Regions from separate parts of the Homo sapiens genome. Here region 2 is linked to region 1. Evidence: fine-mapped expression QTL. A gene starts in region 1. The other region holds a variant in brackets. All regions are shown on one strand. Distances are from middle to middle.

What was found. PIP is the estimated chance that this variant, and not a neighbour inherited with it, causes the effect.
Region 2: its variant is the best candidate, but not a certain one, in a credible set for the expression of C1orf220 in sun-exposed skin (GTEx, PIP 0.67).

Annotation. Positions count from the first base shown.
Region 1 is chr1:178,538,037-178,546,792 of GRCh38, reverse strand. C1orf220 (chromosome 1 putative open reading frame 220) reads right to left here and starts at 3,997. Exons shown (of 3, transcript NR_033186.1): 1 at 3,908-3,997; 2 at 890-1,580. It overlaps LOC124904460 (a long non-coding RNA gene), which reads left to right and starts at 4,148. Exons shown (of 2, transcript XR_007066748.1): 1 at 4,148-4,759; 2 at 4,967-6,230. RefSeq lists silencers at 3,763-3,832, 3,863-4,192 and an enhancer at 4,243-4,302.
Region 2 is chr1:178,098,405-178,107,160 of GRCh38, reverse strand. The region is part of intron 1 of RASAL2 (RAS protein activator like 2); the gene reads right to left. Among named protein-coding and RNA genes, the nearest start is that of RASAL2, 8.7 kb to the right of the region's middle. The variant T/C (reference allele first, on the strand shown) is at 5,126.

The DNA.
Region 1 (8,756 bases):
GGAAGCGGAGGTTGTAGTGAGCTGAGATCATACCATTAGACTCCAGCCTGGGCATCGCAGCGAGACTCCATTGCCAAAAAAAAAAAAAAAAAAAGAAAAATCTCAGATGACATCAGCGAACAGAGAGAGCTGAGATTCTAGTGTTGCTTGTGAGCTTCCCCAGAGGAGGTCGAACCGAAACCAGGTCTCAAATGCAGTAGGGATATCCATCTGCTGTTTTTTAAAAATATTTTTTAAAGTATATTTTTAAAATACAGATAGGGTCTCACTTTGTTCCTCAGGCTGCTGTCAAACTCCTGGCCTCAAGCAATCCTCCGGCCTCCTCCTCCCAAACTGCTGCCATTACAGGGATGAGCCACTGCGCCCAGCCCATTGTAGTTTTTATTAGAATTTATGATAAACTTTTCATTTCATGGCATTGTCAATTATATCAGGTATTTTCTTGGTCATTTTTTATTTTTTTTGTCTGGAAAGCTGCTCTGGGGAGACCTCAGTTTTCTGCCCACCTCCTCTGTGTGTGGCCCTCAAACTAAAGACAAGCCCCTTAAGGATCACCACTCCCATGCCTTGCCCCTACCACGGGTACCTCAACCGCTTCTAAAATTTTTAGATCATCTCTGCTATATTCAACGGCCATGGAAGTTTCAAAAGTTTCCAAAGCAAAATGTTTTGTCTGAAACAAGCTGCTTTGGATTTTGTCTACATGATACAGGCACCTTCCTCTGGGCCCCATAATTGTCTCCTCTGTCACTTGCTTGGTGTTATGACATGTAACAAATCAGAGTGGGAAGGTCTTAGTTTTCTCTTTGTCAGCATTCTGGGATGCCCTGGTGGTAACAGGAAATGCACCCACAGCTCCATGCAGCTCTCTTGTAGGTGCTTTTCTTACCTGTGGGCCAGATCCTGTCCTATGTAATGTTGATGTTTGTAGAGTTTATTTTTTGGTTTAGGGCATGAAATGATAATCGGCTTAAGCAGCACCAGAATTGAAGCAGAGAAGGTGAGGACACAGATTTCTTGGCCCTTTGACGAACAAACTGAAGATCACTGTTCAGTCTTCCCAACTGCAGAAGCTGTGATGTGGCGGAAAGAGCTGGAACCGTGCAGCTGGGCTTGCTCCCCCATGTCCCTCGTCCATCCTTCGTGGCCCACTCACTTGCCAAGAGCTGTTGATGTTGAAGCACCCAGGATATCCAGGAGGCAGCACCACATTCAGCAGGGCATTGTGACTTGGGGCCAAGTCTTTCAGCCTCCCTCAATCTCACTTTCTTTACTTGCAAATAGCAATACCACAGACCCCTCACAGGGATCATGGGAAGGTTAAAGAAGTGGAACTGGTTCAGCTGGAGCTTAGTAAGTAGTCAAAATCAACCTTCAAGAGTCCGTGTCCTGGAGCTCAGCAGCTGTCCTGGGCCTGGAAGACGGGGTGTGCTTCTGCTCTGTCTCCTTCTGTGGTTCTGGGGTGGGGGATCTGCATAGCCTGTGGGGTCCCCAGAGAGCCTGGGGCTGCTGCAGAGCAAGTTCTCTGTTGTTGGCAAATAAAGCCATAGCAGAGATGACTCCAGCAAGTTGAGCACCCTCTGAACAAAGAAGGAAATGTATTATCTCTTTCCTGAGGCCTATTCATATTGGAAAAAACACTACCAGATTTAACTTCAAAATATAATTTTTCCAGCACAGCTGGAATGCACCCCCCGGCCATCCAGAGGCTTCTAAATGCATTGGGAGCTCAGTTACGACGCTCACCAAGTTGTCTCATCTCGCCTGGAACCCACTGGCCCTCACAGAGTTGAGAGAATATTCATTTTCTTGAACTCTTATGAACGACAGTTTCTCGCTTGCCATGATTCTGTGGAACTGGGCATCCGGCATCTCAGAGATGGGAAGTCGGAGAAATTCTGAGCATAGGCTGTATTTGCTGAGAAGATAAAGAGACTACTTTCCATTTCTCACTTCTCTCTCAAAGCGCAAAAACAACGGGCCTGTCTGGCCTAGTCACTGCTTTCTGTCTCTGAAGTGTTCCAGGCGCCAGAACCAGCCTTCCTCCTTATTAACGTTCCATGATGATTCCTTCCAGGTGCTGGGGATCCAGCCCGTGGGGTTATTAGAGGGCAGACACCAACAGGGAAGGTGTTGTTGACTCACCCTCACAAATATCATTCCTTACATTGTCAGGGCAATTACAAAACACGACTTTAAAAATACTATAATAAAATATCCAACTGAAGACTTTCAGTATAATTAATCCGCCAACCTTATATTTTGAGAAGGTTGAGAGCCGTGAGGGAAAATAAACCCTAGAGAAATACATTGTTTTTAAGTTCTTTCAATAAAGACATGTAGGCATTTTCTAATGTTTTTCCCAAAAAGAAAGAACATCTACTCCTCTAATTCCACAAGAGATATAAAGAATTAAAGAAATTGTGATTAACAGCCCTGTGTCTGGAGCTCATGAAGCTCAGAGGATTGGGAATGGAAGTGGCAGGTTTAGGCTTGAATCAGAACTTCTGGATTTAGGAAAACAAAACAGGCCAGGCGCGGTGGCTCACACCTGTAATCCCAGCACTCTGGGAGGCCAAGGCGGGCAGATCAGGAGCTTGAGACCAGCCTGCCCAACGTGAGAAACCCTGTCTCTACTAAGAATAAAAAATTTAGCCAGGCATGGTGGTGGCACGCCTGTTAATCCCCGCTACTTGGGAGATTGAGGCAGGAGAATCGCTTGAACCTGGGAAGCAGAGGTTGCAGTGAGTCGAGATGGCGCCACTGCACTCCAGCCTGGGCCACAGAGCGAGACTCCGTCTCAAACAAACAAACGACAACAACAAAATGCAAACTCTGGCCAGGCGCGGTGGCTCATGCCTGTAATCCCAGCACGTTGGGAGGCCAAGGTGGGCGTATCACTTGAGGTCAGGAGTTCAAGACCAGCCTGGCGAACATGGTGAAACCCCATCTCTACTAAAAATACAAAAATTAGCCAGGTGTGGTGTCATGCACCTGTAGTCCCAGCTACTCAGAAGGCTGAGGCAGGATAATCGCTTGAACCTGGAAGACAGGTTGCGGTGAGCACAGATCGCGCCACTGCACCCCAACCTGAGCGACAGAACAAGACTTCATAAAAAAAAAAAAAACCCCACGCAGATTGCAGATTCCTGGGCCCCATCTTCGCCTTTCTGAATTGCAGCCTTTCACCCTTTAAGAATGAGAGGGTGAAATCTGCACGTCATACAAATAGCCCAGGGGCTATTAATCTGATGTTGCTCCCCAGCTCCCTCCAACACCGTCAGAGGGTGCACGGATTAGGCCTCTGCTGCGTGCAGAGAAGCATCCTAGGTGCTGCGTGGCTGTGCCAAAGCAGCAGAAACCGGTGGTGTGCCTTAAGATGCATGCTCCAAAGCTGTCCACAAGGCCTCTGGTACAGGCTTCCAGGTCTACGTCTCGGCTTCCCCGACAGTGTCCATGCGACACTGTCACCAGTTTCTCCTCTCACAAGCAGAAAATCAAATTCGGATTGGGCAAATGATTCCCTGCCCGGGTGTGGAATAAGGGTCAAGTCCTAAGTATGGAGAGAGAGCGCCGGCTCCCGCCAGGATATGCGAAGCTCTGGAGGGGAGGCCAAGCCACCAGGCACCCGGCGGGAGAAGAGGAGGCTGGAGAGCGCCGCCCAGTGCCTGCAGGCCGGGCGCTCCACGCCTCCCCTCCCTCCTGCACACCCCATTCCCCTCCGGTTGCCCCGCCTGGGAAGCCCCCTCCCCACACCTCCCGGCCCAGCATCTGCACGAGAGCCGCGAGCCCTGGCCCAGAGCTCTGGGTGGGCCTCTCACCCCAGACGGCGGCCGCAGCCCGTCCCTGATCACCGGCCGCCTGAGCCCTCCGTTCGCTCGGCGCGAGCGCCGCCACCCGTCCTTACCCCCATCCAGTCCGAGGCCAGCCCCGTAGGCTCCGAGCCTGCTCCGTGAAAAGCCTTTTCCCCAGGAGGAGAGTTACTGTAAAGCAAGAGGAAGCCGAGAAGAGGCGGTGGCTGCAGCGCGCGGGGCCCGGCGGGGGCGCGGGGGCGTCGGGGTACTGACTGGGCAGCGCGGTTTCCCCTCATCCCGGGACACGGTGCGGCGCTAGCGCCACCCAGCGGGCGCGGTGGGAATTGCGCTCCCTTCCTGCGCTGGGGCTCTGGACACACAGGCGACCAAGAATGACGCCTGCAGCCGGATAAACGCTCGGGGCAAGGCCGCTATCATCCCTCTGCCGGGAGTGAGTCAAGTCTCAGCAAAAGAAGAAGCCACTTTGGCCAAAATTCCAAGAGTGCTGATGAAGACGGTGACATCTGACATTTCAATGGCACTTTCCATTTCCCCCGGGGTGCGCATTCCGGGCCAGTGGAGCGCTGCGTCGCCTGTGCAGGACCTGGAGGTCTGCAGGACTGTGACCAGTCGGAGTCTCGGAGTCGTGGGTTAAACATTAGTCGGGAGCACTCGTTCATTCCCTGAGCTCCCCTTGCCCTTCACCCTTCGGTCCCGGAAGCCGGAAGGGAGACTGCCCCGCCCCTTGCCTGCCGCCCAGTGGCTCTCCCGGGGCCCTCTTGGCCCCTCTCTCCCAGCCCTCCATACAGTGAAGGGTTGTTTCCGCTGGTGACTTCCACCTGTGGGAGCAGAGAAAGGAAGCGGGGCAGAGGAGAAGGGGAAGGTGTCAGGCGATTCCCCTCCTTGCGCTGCAAGCCGGGTGGGAATAGAACACCTGCAGCCCTCCCCGGCGCCCTGCGAATGAGGTGGGAGTGGGAACGCCATCAGGGCAGAGCCCCTCCAGCTGGCTGGGGTCTGCACCTCCTCGCCAGCCCGGCCACCTCAAAACGGTGCTTGCCTCCCTGCGGGGGTGTAGAAGCCTCTTGGAGCAGCACTTGTAGAAAATCAAGTCCCTGGAAAGAAGCAAAATTAATCCGTTTGTTTCTCTATTTATTTTTGCTTCCCCACACCAGGTATTCACTTCATCCAAGGCTGCCCAATGTCACCTTCCACCCAGAGGAATCTCCCCTCTCCACCCCAGGCCAACAGCCTCTGCCTTCAGCTGTGGCCTCCACTCTGGCATTACTCTGGGCAGAGGGCTCAGGAGGGCTCAAGGAGGACCAGTGACATTCAGAGTGGCCAGAGTAAAGGGAGGGAGGGGGAGTGGTGGGAGAGGCGTGCAGAAGGCACAGGTGAGGTGGCGGAGGGGGGCAGGTGGTGGGGGGAGCGGGCTGGGGTGGGATGGGCCTGTCAGCATAGCAAGGGCTGTGATGGGCTTGAGTCTGACAGGGGGCAATGACCTGACCTACGGTTTTGTAAGATCACTCTGGCTGCCACCTGGAGAGCTGGTGTGGGGATGATGGCCATGGTAGACACAAGGGGAGCAGTTAGGAGACCACCACAAGTGACCATGCGGCCCAGGCGAGTAGGGTAGCAACAGAGATGGGGAGAGGAGGTCAGATTTGTGATCTGTATCTGAAGGTGGAATGGACAGGAATTGCTGATGAGCTTGGGTGTGGTGCATGAGGGAAAGAGAGAAATAAGCATCATTCTTAGGATTTGTCCTGAGCAACTGGAAGAAAAAGAATGACAGTGGCTAATACGGTTAGCCAGGCGCTCCTCTAAACCCTTCACATAGTTTAACCTGTCTAGATTTCATAACACTCCTATGAATTAGGAATTAGTTCTTCCCACATTTTACAGAAGAGGCAATCGAGGCCCAGAGAGTTGAATCAGTTTGCATAAAGTCCCACCATTAGCAAATGGAAAAGCTGGAATTTGGACCCAGCACTTCACCACTGCACACTTCCCCGGCTTTACAGAAAGAGAAATGCCGTGAACTGAGCTAGATGAGCCCGGGGGAGGAATGGGGTTTTTCCGTGGGGGTGTGAATCAAGAGTTCTAGTTGGAATGAATTCAGGCTGAGGTGCCTTTTAAACATCCAAGTAGAGATATTTAGCTCAGCAGATGGATGTATGACTCAGGCCCTGGGTGGCAAGGAGGAGCATCTGGGGCTGGCGTGTTAAGCATGGAGAGGAGACAGGAGAAGAGGGCAGAAGGCTGGGAAGTGGGATTAAATGCTGCATGTGAACGGATGAGGACAGAAATGGATACTTTAGAGCATCCTGTCAAGCCTTGGGGTGTCGGGTGATGAGTGTGTTTAGGAAATATTATTCTAGAGCAGTGCTTGTTTTTGTTTGAGGATTCAATAAAGGCTGTCACCTTGTTCCAGAAAAAGTACATGAACACACACGCAACATTTTGCATACAATTTCAGGGTGTCCGTGGGTCCCCAGAGGACATGCATGGGCCATTCTATTTCTATCAAACCTTACTTCATCCACCAGCCACAATCAAATTTCACTGTATCTCTCAAGTCCTGACCAGACCTCTGATGCAGTCACCCCACCCTCTCTGTCTGCATGAGATAGGAGCTGCACTCCTCTGAATCGAGACGGTTTTGAATTGAGACGGTTTTGAATGTCTATGTAGAATGCAGCTCGCCCTGCAGGTATTGCCTGTGTACATGTCTCATTTGGAAATGGTTCCCCTGAGGAATGAGAGGATGAACCCACAGAGTCTTTTGCTCTCTTATTCACCTGGGAGGTGATGTTATTCATCTATTTCCTAGATTTATTTGTTTTTTTGGTGTTTTTTGTTTTTGTTTTCGTTTTGAGATGGACTCTTTCTCTGTCGCCCAGGCTGGAATGCAATGGCGTGATCTCAACTCACTGCAACCTCTGCCTCCCGGGTTCAAGCGATTCTCCTGCCTCAGCCTTCTGAGTAGCTGGGATTACAGGTGTGCACCACCACACCTGGCTAATTTTTGTATTTTTAGTGGAGACCGGGTTTCACCATGTTGGCCAGCCTGGTCTCGAACTCCTGACCTCAAGTGATCCACCCTCCTCAGCCCCCTATAGTGCTGGGATTACAGGCATGAGCCACCATGCCTGGCCTTATTTCCTAGGTTTAAAGACAAAACTAGCTCGTTCTATTGTTTCCATCGACACAATTGCTTCCCCAATATATAATGGGCATTTGTTGCTATTGTTCTGTTTGTTTTGGCGGTCCAGCTTCCAGCATCCATTCTATTTGGGAGGATTCCCCGGTGACTCTTGGCAGGAATCCATCAGCCCCTCTGGAAATGGAAGGAATGGAAGGAACCAGGTGTCCCTCTTGTCCCCCACCCCTGCAGAGGTCACAGCCTTCCTATCCTGCCCAGCCCAGTGGGGCTTTGAAGGCTAGGGTGCAGGAACAGAAGAGAACTTATTTTTGGCCATGGCAGCTAGGCCAGGAGACCATCTGTGAGAGTAGCATCCTGTGTCCTGTGGCAGCAGTCCCGGCCACGGTATCCTCACCACAGCCTGGCCACAGCTTGGCCTCGCCTGCATCTCCTGCTGCCAGCCGCCTTGATACCTGCCCATTTTCCCCATGCGGTTCTCCAGCCTTCCGACTGATAAGTTCTGCACATATTTCCCCATGTCCATTGCCTGCACGAGTCAGCCAGGTCAGCTCTGTCGCTTCCACCAAGACCTCTCACTGCAGTGGCTGTGCTGAGCTTGCAGCTGACGTCTGCTCTACAGTGTCAGCACTTGGGATTCTTCTTCTGTTGGGGGTCCCTGAAGGTGGGATTCCTGGCCTGTCGAAGCATTGCTGTGTGACACATGCCAGATCCTTGCGGTTGCCTGTGAAGCTCGGAGCCCTCCATATCGAGGGAGGAAGGCTTTCCTTCCAGCAAAGTCTTGTGGCTTTCAGCGAGAGCGACTATGCAGCAGCCAGACCAACTACAGAGGTCACAACAACAACCCCTGTCCCGATGACAATCCTGTGATTTTCCTGGCTCAAAATGAAGTTTGACAAGTCTTGTTTTATACTCTTGTCATCACTGGGATTTCTTCTGACTTTACAAGACCAACAGGAATTGGAGTCAGACTCACAGGGGAGCCTGAGAGCCTCTCTATCCCACACCGCTGTGGGAGCCACGCCCAGGTGGGGCCAGGGCTGCAGAGGGGGAAGCTGGGAATGGCTGGGCAAGGATAGAGGCAGCTCAGCTTCCCCTAAGCCTGGGGTGGCCTGAGGGGCCCCCTGCACTATGCTGGAACGTACCTTCCTTTCCAAGGAAGGAAAACAGCAGCTTCTGACTCATGACTGTGTCCTCCTGCAGACAAGTACACAGCTCATCCCCTCAGAGTGTCTGAGTGCTGAGCTCACATCTCATGGTGGGGTGTTGCGGCCATGTCGCTGCCCCATCCCACGGGCATGGTGAGGATTCTGTTACTGCACACTCTTTAGGGTCCTTTATAGTTAATAAAATATTGAACCACTTCCATACTGGTTGGTAAACAGCTGCTGCCCTGAGCTGCCCCCACCTCCGACCCAGTGGCCACCTGCCCATCATTCTCCTGGTCCTTTCCCAGGACTGGCCAGGTGTCCCCACAACCTAGCAGCTAAGGGTCCTACCTGGCACAGATTCTGGTGGGTCAGGGCCCATGGTTAAGTATTTGGGGGTATCACCCCACCCACGAGTGTTCTCAGCACGCACTCACTCCTGCCTCTTCTCTGGTCCCCACACACTCAGCCACCCTGTCCCACCTCTTCTCACCACCAAATTAATATGCTCATCCTTCTCACCTCATCCTAGCCCCACCTCCTTCAAGAATCAGTCCTGAGTCCATAGCCCCTGCATCTCCCCCTCACACCCAGAGCACTCCGCCTCCTACAGATAGCGCTTCCCAAATACGTCTCTCTCAAAGCTCTTTATGA
Region 2 (8,756 bases), 440 kb after region 1:
TTAGGAGTCACTAACTTTTTCACAATTATTTCCCTGATAAAATGGAGAAATGACTTATCATGTTTAATAAGTTTGTTGACAGAAAAAAATGCAAGGTTTTTCAAGATTGTAGGGAAAAAGCAACTCTGTAAAAACATATAATTTCATACAATATGCTCACAGGTAAACAGAATAATATTACTGGATATATATGAGGAAATTTATTATGCTAGTTAAGCTACAGGAAAAGAAAGATGATCAGCTAATAGATATTACAAAGTCAAGCCTCTCTCAAGGTGACACTCTGGCATGACAATCTCAGTATAGACCAAAACTACAACCTAAAATGCAAATAACTGAAAATGTTCTCTTAAGCTTATTTTGGTTGAACTTGCAAAAGAATGACTGAAGACTTTCTGACCTGAACAAAACAGGAAGAAATCGACTGTATCTGGGGTATCTTTCTATTTCAATAGAAATCACCATATGATACCATTTTTTCTTAATCATGTTATCAAGCTAGATTCAAAAACAGGAATATAAATTTTATTTTCTATAAAAAGGAAAACCATGAAGTCTTTATAAAACTAGACAACATTAAAAGCAAAGTCATTGTTTTAGACATTACAACATATCTTTCGTTACTTGGTAGCTACTGTACTGACCATCTTATTCAAGGTCCATACGTTGATACAGAGTAATCAGCAACCACTTGGACAAAAAGCAGCCATTTCAAAATAGGAACATGCAACAGAAAGGCCTTGGGTTTCCTCACTCAAGGGCAGTCTTGAAATTTACAAATACACATAAAGTTGTACACAGTCAAGCCTAAGGGAACCATGGAGGGAAATCTAGGAATTGTGGATATGCTATACTTCAGCACAAACTGGAACATGCAAATATAGATTATAGCCAGGCAAAGAGATTTTTTATGCTGTCAGTCACTACCCTGGAGATAGTGTACATGCTATCCTTTTTGGAAAATTATTACATAAAATATGACATTAAAAAAATTTCATTACAAGAACAGAAAAACAAAACAAGAATAATCTTCACCTTGTCAGTGTATCCCTCAGAGCAACAGAGTTATAGATTAACTCCTAACAATAATGTTGTCATCTACAGCGATTTCATGTTTCCATGAACTAAATTAGTAAAATGCTTTAAAACTACAATTGATTTTTACTGAGTTCAAAAAGAAAACGTGGCTGGGTACAGCAGCTCATGCCTATAATCACAGCACTTTGGAAGGCTGGGGCAAGAGGATTGCTTGAGCTTAGAAGTTCAAAACCAGCCTGGGCAACACAGTGAGACCTCGTCTCTACAAAAAGTAAACAAAAAACTAGCTGGGCGCAGTGGTGCACACCTGAAGTAGCACCTACTTGGTGGGAGGATCCCTTGAGCCTGGGAGGTCCAGGCTACAGTGAGCCAAGATAGAGCCACAGCACTCCAGCCTGAGTGACAGAACAAGACTCCGTCTCAAAAAAAAAAAAAAGAACCCCAAAAAACAAAAAGAGAATGTGTCTAGTAATTTCATACACTTCAAAAACTGACAAAAATACTGCCATACTTTCCCACTGTATCATATCCTTCATATGTCTTCATTATTTAGTACTTATTTATGGAGCAAGATATTTGCATATTCTATCCTGCCCGAATTAAACAAATTTTCCTACAAACCTCCAGAGTATTAACTGGATAAGGGATTATTTTTTCATTTCACTTTCAAACTACTTTAAGTCATTGTTAAAAGTTAAAAACAGTTTGTTCTTTTTCTAAGTTTGCTCCTTTCTGGCCTAGCAAGACAAGCTTATGCTTATGTATTACATGCTAAACAGCTAAATGGTAAAAGAAAATTTGGTTAACTTTGTTAACGGTCTATATAAAATATGATTTTTTCCATAGTCTTATTCCTATTCCTGCCATTATTTTTTCTGAAGAAAAGATTTTAAATTACTTTAATCATTAATATTAGTTCTTGTTGCCATTACTTGGATTTGGCTTTGTTTAACATTATGAAAAACTTTCCTCAGAACATACCTAAATTAATCCCATGCTATAAAACTGGGTCATTAACACAGTATTATATAAGACATACAACTCAATCACTCATCCAGGTAAAACTAAATGAAACTATATTCAAATCATGTTCAAAATAACTTTCATGAATGTCAACTCCTTCTAGCTGAGATAAAAGTTACCAACTGTGTGCTTCTTAGAATACCTAAAACATATGTCTGCATCAAGTTATTTCAGTTGGAGGGTCTGACATAATACAAGTAAGGTCACGGTCATGGATTTGACCTTTAGCAGACCAATTGCTTTGAGTCTATACTCCCGCCCTTCCCTCATTCACTTGGAAATATGCCATTAATAAAAAGGAGTACCATTTAAACAACAACTAAGTTTTTGAAGGACAGTCTTAAAGGCATAAAGACTCAAGGCATTTAATATGTGCTAAGTAACGTTTAAGGTATTATATAAAATTTATGTAAAAAGATTTTAATACATTGAAAGTAGCAACACAGCAGTAGAACTTAAAATTATGAGCCATATTTCACATACTAGAGGCAGGAATTACTTTCCAGGAAGGTTTCACCAATTTCGCACTAAATCTCAGGCCTTTAAAAACATTTCATACTCTTCTAGGAATTCAGCATAAGAAAACATTCAGAAGTTTGGATCAAAGATTTGTGCACAAAGACAAATCAGTAAAGTGTTAAACTTTTTGAAAAATGTTAACATCTAAAATAGAATAATGGTTAAATAATGTTAGTCATTAAAAATTGTATTTTCATATTATAAAGTCTCAACAATAAAGCTGTGTGATACTGGCACATGAATATAAACAGACCAATAGAACAGAATAGAAAATCTTGAAATAACCCAAAATATAAATGGCAATCTTGTATAGAATAAAGAAGTCTTCTTAAATCAGTGCGAAAAAGCTGGTTTCTTCAACAAATGATGGTAGGACAACTGGAAAGCCATCTTTCAAAAAATGAAATTGGATCCATATCTCATATTTAATACCAGACTGGATTAAAGATTTGAATGTAAAAAATAAAACCAACGAAGTACTAGATAAACCAAGAGAGAATTATTTCATAACCTCAGAACAGGAAAGCCCACTCTTTTTTTTGTCCCCCAAGGGTATTTAGGTACTTAGTGTATGTAGAGGGGGAAAAAAAAAGAATGGGCTTTCCTATTCTGAGGTTACAAAATAAAGGTCCAGAGAACTCCCAGGAAAGCCCATTCTAACATAAAATACATTCTGACATAAAACCAAAAAGCCATAAAAGAAAAATCCGATACATTCAATTGTGTAAGAATCATTTCTTCATAAGGGTGGGGGGAATACCATAAGAAAAATGAAAATACTGGCAACTGTTGCAGATAAAGGGTTCTTTACTTAAATACTAAGAGTTCCTTAGTATGCTTTGCTTAATATACTAATAGTTCCTACAAATCACTAAGAAAAAGATCCAAGAACCCAATAAAAATGGGCAAAAGGTATGTACAGTTCACAGAAAAGGTTATATTTAAATGACTCTTAAAAATGAAAAGATGTTCAATCACACTTAATGTAAAAGATATTAAAAAAAATTAAATTAAGACACCATTTTTACCTTTCAGATTGTCTGATCCAAAATTTCGTGATAATTCATTATGTGTGGGGAGACAGGCACTCTCATATATTGCGGGCGAAGTACAGACAGGTAGGGCAATTTGGCAATATCTTTCAAAATTACAAATACACGTACCTTTGACCTAGCAATTCTATGTATTTTTCTTACAGATATGCTCATACACAAGCAAAATGGCTTATACTCAAGATCATTCACTGCAAAATCACTTGAACTAGCAAAACTTGGGGAATAATTAAATGAGTTATGATTAATTCAGGCATTATGCAGCCATAAAAAGAATGAGGTACCTCTTTACAAAATGAAAGGAAAATATATCTGAGATACATTAATAAGTGAGGGGCGGGGGGAAGAAAGAAGAAGCAATCTCAAAGTGCAGATAAAAATCAGTTCTAATGGGTTATCATACGTGTAAAAATAGAGAAAAATGCATATATACAGTAAAAACCTATGATATCATTTCAGATATAAAGCAATTTACCGGCTCCAGACCCCCAGAACTCATGGCCAACTTCATTTGCAGGTTTGTTCTGGTCATTTCACTAACCTCACAGAAATATAACCCTGAATTTTTTGTAAACTAGATTTCTTGGATCCCACTTATGGCAGGATTTTTACATATCTATCTATCTCTACATTTGCTTCTATGCACGTGGAATAGGTATGGAAAGATACATAACAATTTCAAGTATTTATTGATTGGGAAGAGGGACCATGCCTGCCAGATGGCAAGTTGTAGAGGCAGGGAGGAAGAGTAAGAGAGAGCTCATGGAATATCTTTTTATACTCTGAATTTTGGAACAAAGGAATATATTACCTATTTTTTAAAATAAATAACATATTTAAAAAAATGTGTTAATGTTTTCAATAACATGAGAAAATACACTTAAGAGAAAAAAAGTAGAATGTAAAATATATGCAGTTTGATACCAAATATGTATTAATACAAAAAAATCTGTACACAAAAAAGACTGGAATAAAACACAATAAAATATTAAAAGAATAATTATCTCAGCCAGGTGTGGTAGCACACTCCTGTAGTCCCAGTTATTCGGGAGGCTGAGGTGGAAGGATCCCCTGAACCCAGGCAATGGATAATATGTAAGCTATGATTGCGCCACTGCACTCCAACCTGGGCATGAGCTATGATTGCGCCACTGCACTCCAACCTTGGCAACAGAATGAGACCCCGTCTCTAAAATATAATATTTAAAAAAAAATGATAGTTATCTCTAAGAGGTAGAATTACAAATGATTTTAATTTTGGCTTTTCCTAAAATTCTAATTCTTTATGTTAAGCACAAATTATATTCATAATCAGAAAAAGGGTATTAATTTTTAATGACAGGAATCAGAGGTTAGAAATTCAAGTGGAAGGTACAAAGTTATTAGGTATTATTCAGGGTTCTAAGCATCATATATGAAATTCAAATTTCCTTCAGACATCACTTCCAATCACAGCACCAAAAAAAGTATGCATAATAAGCTTAGGAAAAATA[T/C]GAAAAAAAAAATCTCATCTGTCCTCTGGTCTATCTCTTAAGGATTACTATGAAATTATTTTCATCCTCCTACTTTATGGATGTTTTGTCCATTTTTGTTTTCTGTTACCTAGGTAATGGTATTTCCAGCATTTCCCTTAAAAGACTGTGAAACTAACAATCTGGTATTTCTCACTGTCGAGTTTTCCTGACCTTCAGCTTTGAGAGGCCATCTCCCTAAGGGAAGGCAGCAAGATCTAGAAGCTAAATCAGGAGGCTAAGGAATCTGAGGTTAAGAGTTCCAATCCTGACAAACTGTGGAGTCTGTCTCCAATTTTGGGAATAAGCTAAACTTCCTGAGCCAGTTTCTTCAATGAGAAAACCTAAAGGATTGCTTTGAAAAATATCAAAAACTATTGACTTTAAGGTTTCATTTTAACTTTTCAGACTACTCTTCCGAATTTTGTTATCTTATCTATGTTGAATGTTTTCCCCTCACTAAATTTTCACTCTCTCAATCAATATCTATAAGTATTACCAATCCCTTAGACTCAGGGATGGAGGTAAGGGGTACTTTTAGAAAGTCTGCTACAAGTGACACAATGTGAATGGAACTCGAGCAATGTTGAAGATAATTTATGGAGGGGTAAAAATACAATCAGGATCTAAACTGAACCCTTATGAGCAAAGCCAACAAAGACAATTAATTGATGTTACTAACACCTGGTAAGGGAAGGTAAAATTCAGACAGCTCATATCTGAACCCAGCTGTAGAGATTAGGAAAGTGATAACTTCTGTATCATAGTCTAGCAAATGAAATGTTTTTATGCCTTTAAGGGTTCAATTTTTATTTCTTTTGTTTACTGTATACTCACTAACACCACTGCACTGGGCCTCAAGACTTCTCTTTTCCCTTCTACTTGTGAACCACATTACTTCTTGATGGGCTGCCCTCTCACTATAAAATAAACTACATGAAATTTGCAAAAGGGTTTTCTACATGCTAGCCTTAAGAAGTACTTGACAGCCTTTGGGAAGAAAGGTGTTTTTACAAACATCAGACAGCAATTATCCCTCTACCAAGATAGGGTGAAGCAATTTTAGCAGTGCCCTTAGCACACTTCAAACTCCTCCTCCTGGTTAACAAGACCAAACAACTCTCTAGTTAGTTAAAAGTTTTTCCAATAGGGAGGGACAAGGGAGCAAACAGCTGAAGTTTTTCTGAATTAACTGTCATTAGTTGAATGCTTTTTTGTGGTTCACCTACTTAAAAGGTGATCAAATCACTTTGTGCTACTGAAGAAAGCAACTGCAAAGAACAATTACATAAACCCTCTATTTCAACTTACCTCATCCTTCCTTCTAATGAAACAAAGGATCCGAAACCACTACCTTGCCACCATTTCCTTAATAATCTTGGTAAAGCCTACTATGTCATGTGAATCTCTTTTCTTTTTCTTAGCAAACCACAGAAATTTCACTCACTATAGTAGGAAACACAACTGTACAACTTTTTTTTTTTTTTTTTATTTGAGACTGAGTCTCGCTCTGTTGCCCAGGCTGGAGTGCAGTGGCACGATCTCAGCTAGCTGCAACCTCTCCCTCCTGGGCTCAAGCGATTCTCGTGCCTCAGCATCCCGAGTAGCTGGGATTACAGATGTGCCACCATGCCCTGCTAATTTTTTTTTTTTTTTGTATTTATAGTAGAGACAAGGTTTCACCATGTTGGCCAGGCTGGTCTCAAACTCCTTACCTCAGGTGATCCGCCCACCTTGGCCTCCTAAAGTGCTGGAATTATGGGCATAAGCCACCGCGCCCGGCCCATTTTTAAAAATGTGTTCAGTAAATGTTATTATCTGAAAAAGATAAAGGATATCCACACAAACTATTCTTAAAGAGGGGTGTTCTAGAACTTTGTATTATTTATGTCTGAAGATTTGTACAGATCCTCAATTCCATATCTGCAATTCCTAAATCAAAAAAGCTCTGAAAAGCAAAAGACTGTATGCAACTTTTCTGGCAGTAAAGTCTGACCTGCACTGACATAAGGCTATTTATAGTCTTTATACCACTTGGTATGATTTTGTTTTTTTTTTGAGATAGTCTCACTCTGTCACCCAGGCTGCAGTGCAACGGTGGAATCACAGCTCACTGCAATCTCCCCCTCCCTGGTTCAAGCGATTCTCCTGCCTCAGCCTCCCAAGTAGCTGGGATTACAGGTGCATGCCACCACACCCGGCTAATTTCTTTGTACTTTAGTAGAAACGGGGTTTCACCATGTTGGCCAGGCTGGTCTTGAACTCCTGACCTCAAGTGATCCACCTGCCTCGGCCTCCCAAAGTGCTGGGATTACAGGCGTGAGCCACCACGCCCGGCCTATTCACTTGTTTAACTGCAGAAATATTAACATAACTGTCTAGTCCAAATGGTTTTGGAAAAGAGATTGTGGATGTATAATTCTATTCCTTAAAAATATTTTCACTGTTTGAAAATCAAATAGCAGTGAACCAACATGATAGAGGGTAGAACAATACTAAGATGTTATAAATGAAACTATCACCTACATTAATAGAGCACACAATTTAAATAAGACATACAAATTTTCTCTCAAAAGAAGAAAAAAGGGGGCTATTTAAAGTCACTTAAACAGTACATGCCTAGGCATTCTTAGAAGTTCTCTCTGATTTCAATGAAAAACTGTCTATTCTTAATGTGTTTTAATGTATTTGGAAATCATTGGAAACTAATACATCAACAAGCCTATGCCACATCCTAAGTATTGAACTCAAGCTTAAGATTCCAAAAATTTCTAAAATATGACTACTCAGGTGTAAAGATTCAATTAACAGTACCTGAGGAAATTAAGACATTTAAGGAACATGAACATGTTTGGGGATGTATTTTATACACACTCACTGATTTTCTTCTAGCCATACTAGTTGCAACATTTTAAATAAATTTAGAGACATAACCTCTAGAAACGTAACTTTTAAAAATCTCATCCTGTGTCTTAATTGGTGAGGCGTAAGCAGTATCATATAATACAACCAGATATGACTTCTGTCTCATCAGCTCATATTCACTTCTTGAATATGAACTTCTATTAATTCTTACCGAATTCCCACTGCCACATTTCTGGAATTATAAGGTACTTAATGAAGTATGATTAATTCCCTTTTTCTTCTGTTTGCTTAAATAGTACTAGCCCTTTGAAATTTTCCAGCAGGTCCCTATGTTGTTATCAATAAACAATGAGCTGTATACAAGCTTAATGGTAATAATGTTGATGCTATTCATTTTCTTAACAGAATATTTTACCTAATTCCTTCTGATAATATTAAAATTTAAAAGTACAAGATTTCTTGTTGATCCCTTTCTTGTGCTGATTATATTTCCCTTCTAACTCTCCAAGAGCATATCTGAGCACATACTTGCAGACCTGTCATACTGATGAGTGCAGAGCTCCACCGCAGGCAATCCTAGAGATTGGGATCTTAAATTTCTCCCAGAGTGTCCTACACTCCCCATCCATTCATGGTAAAGTATTTAATTTTAATGTTCTCATTGTTTACCAGAAAGCACAGACAGTGAGGCTGGCTTTGCCACTCCCGTTTCCTTTCGCTATGCTGCTGAGCTTTTTCAGCCAATTGA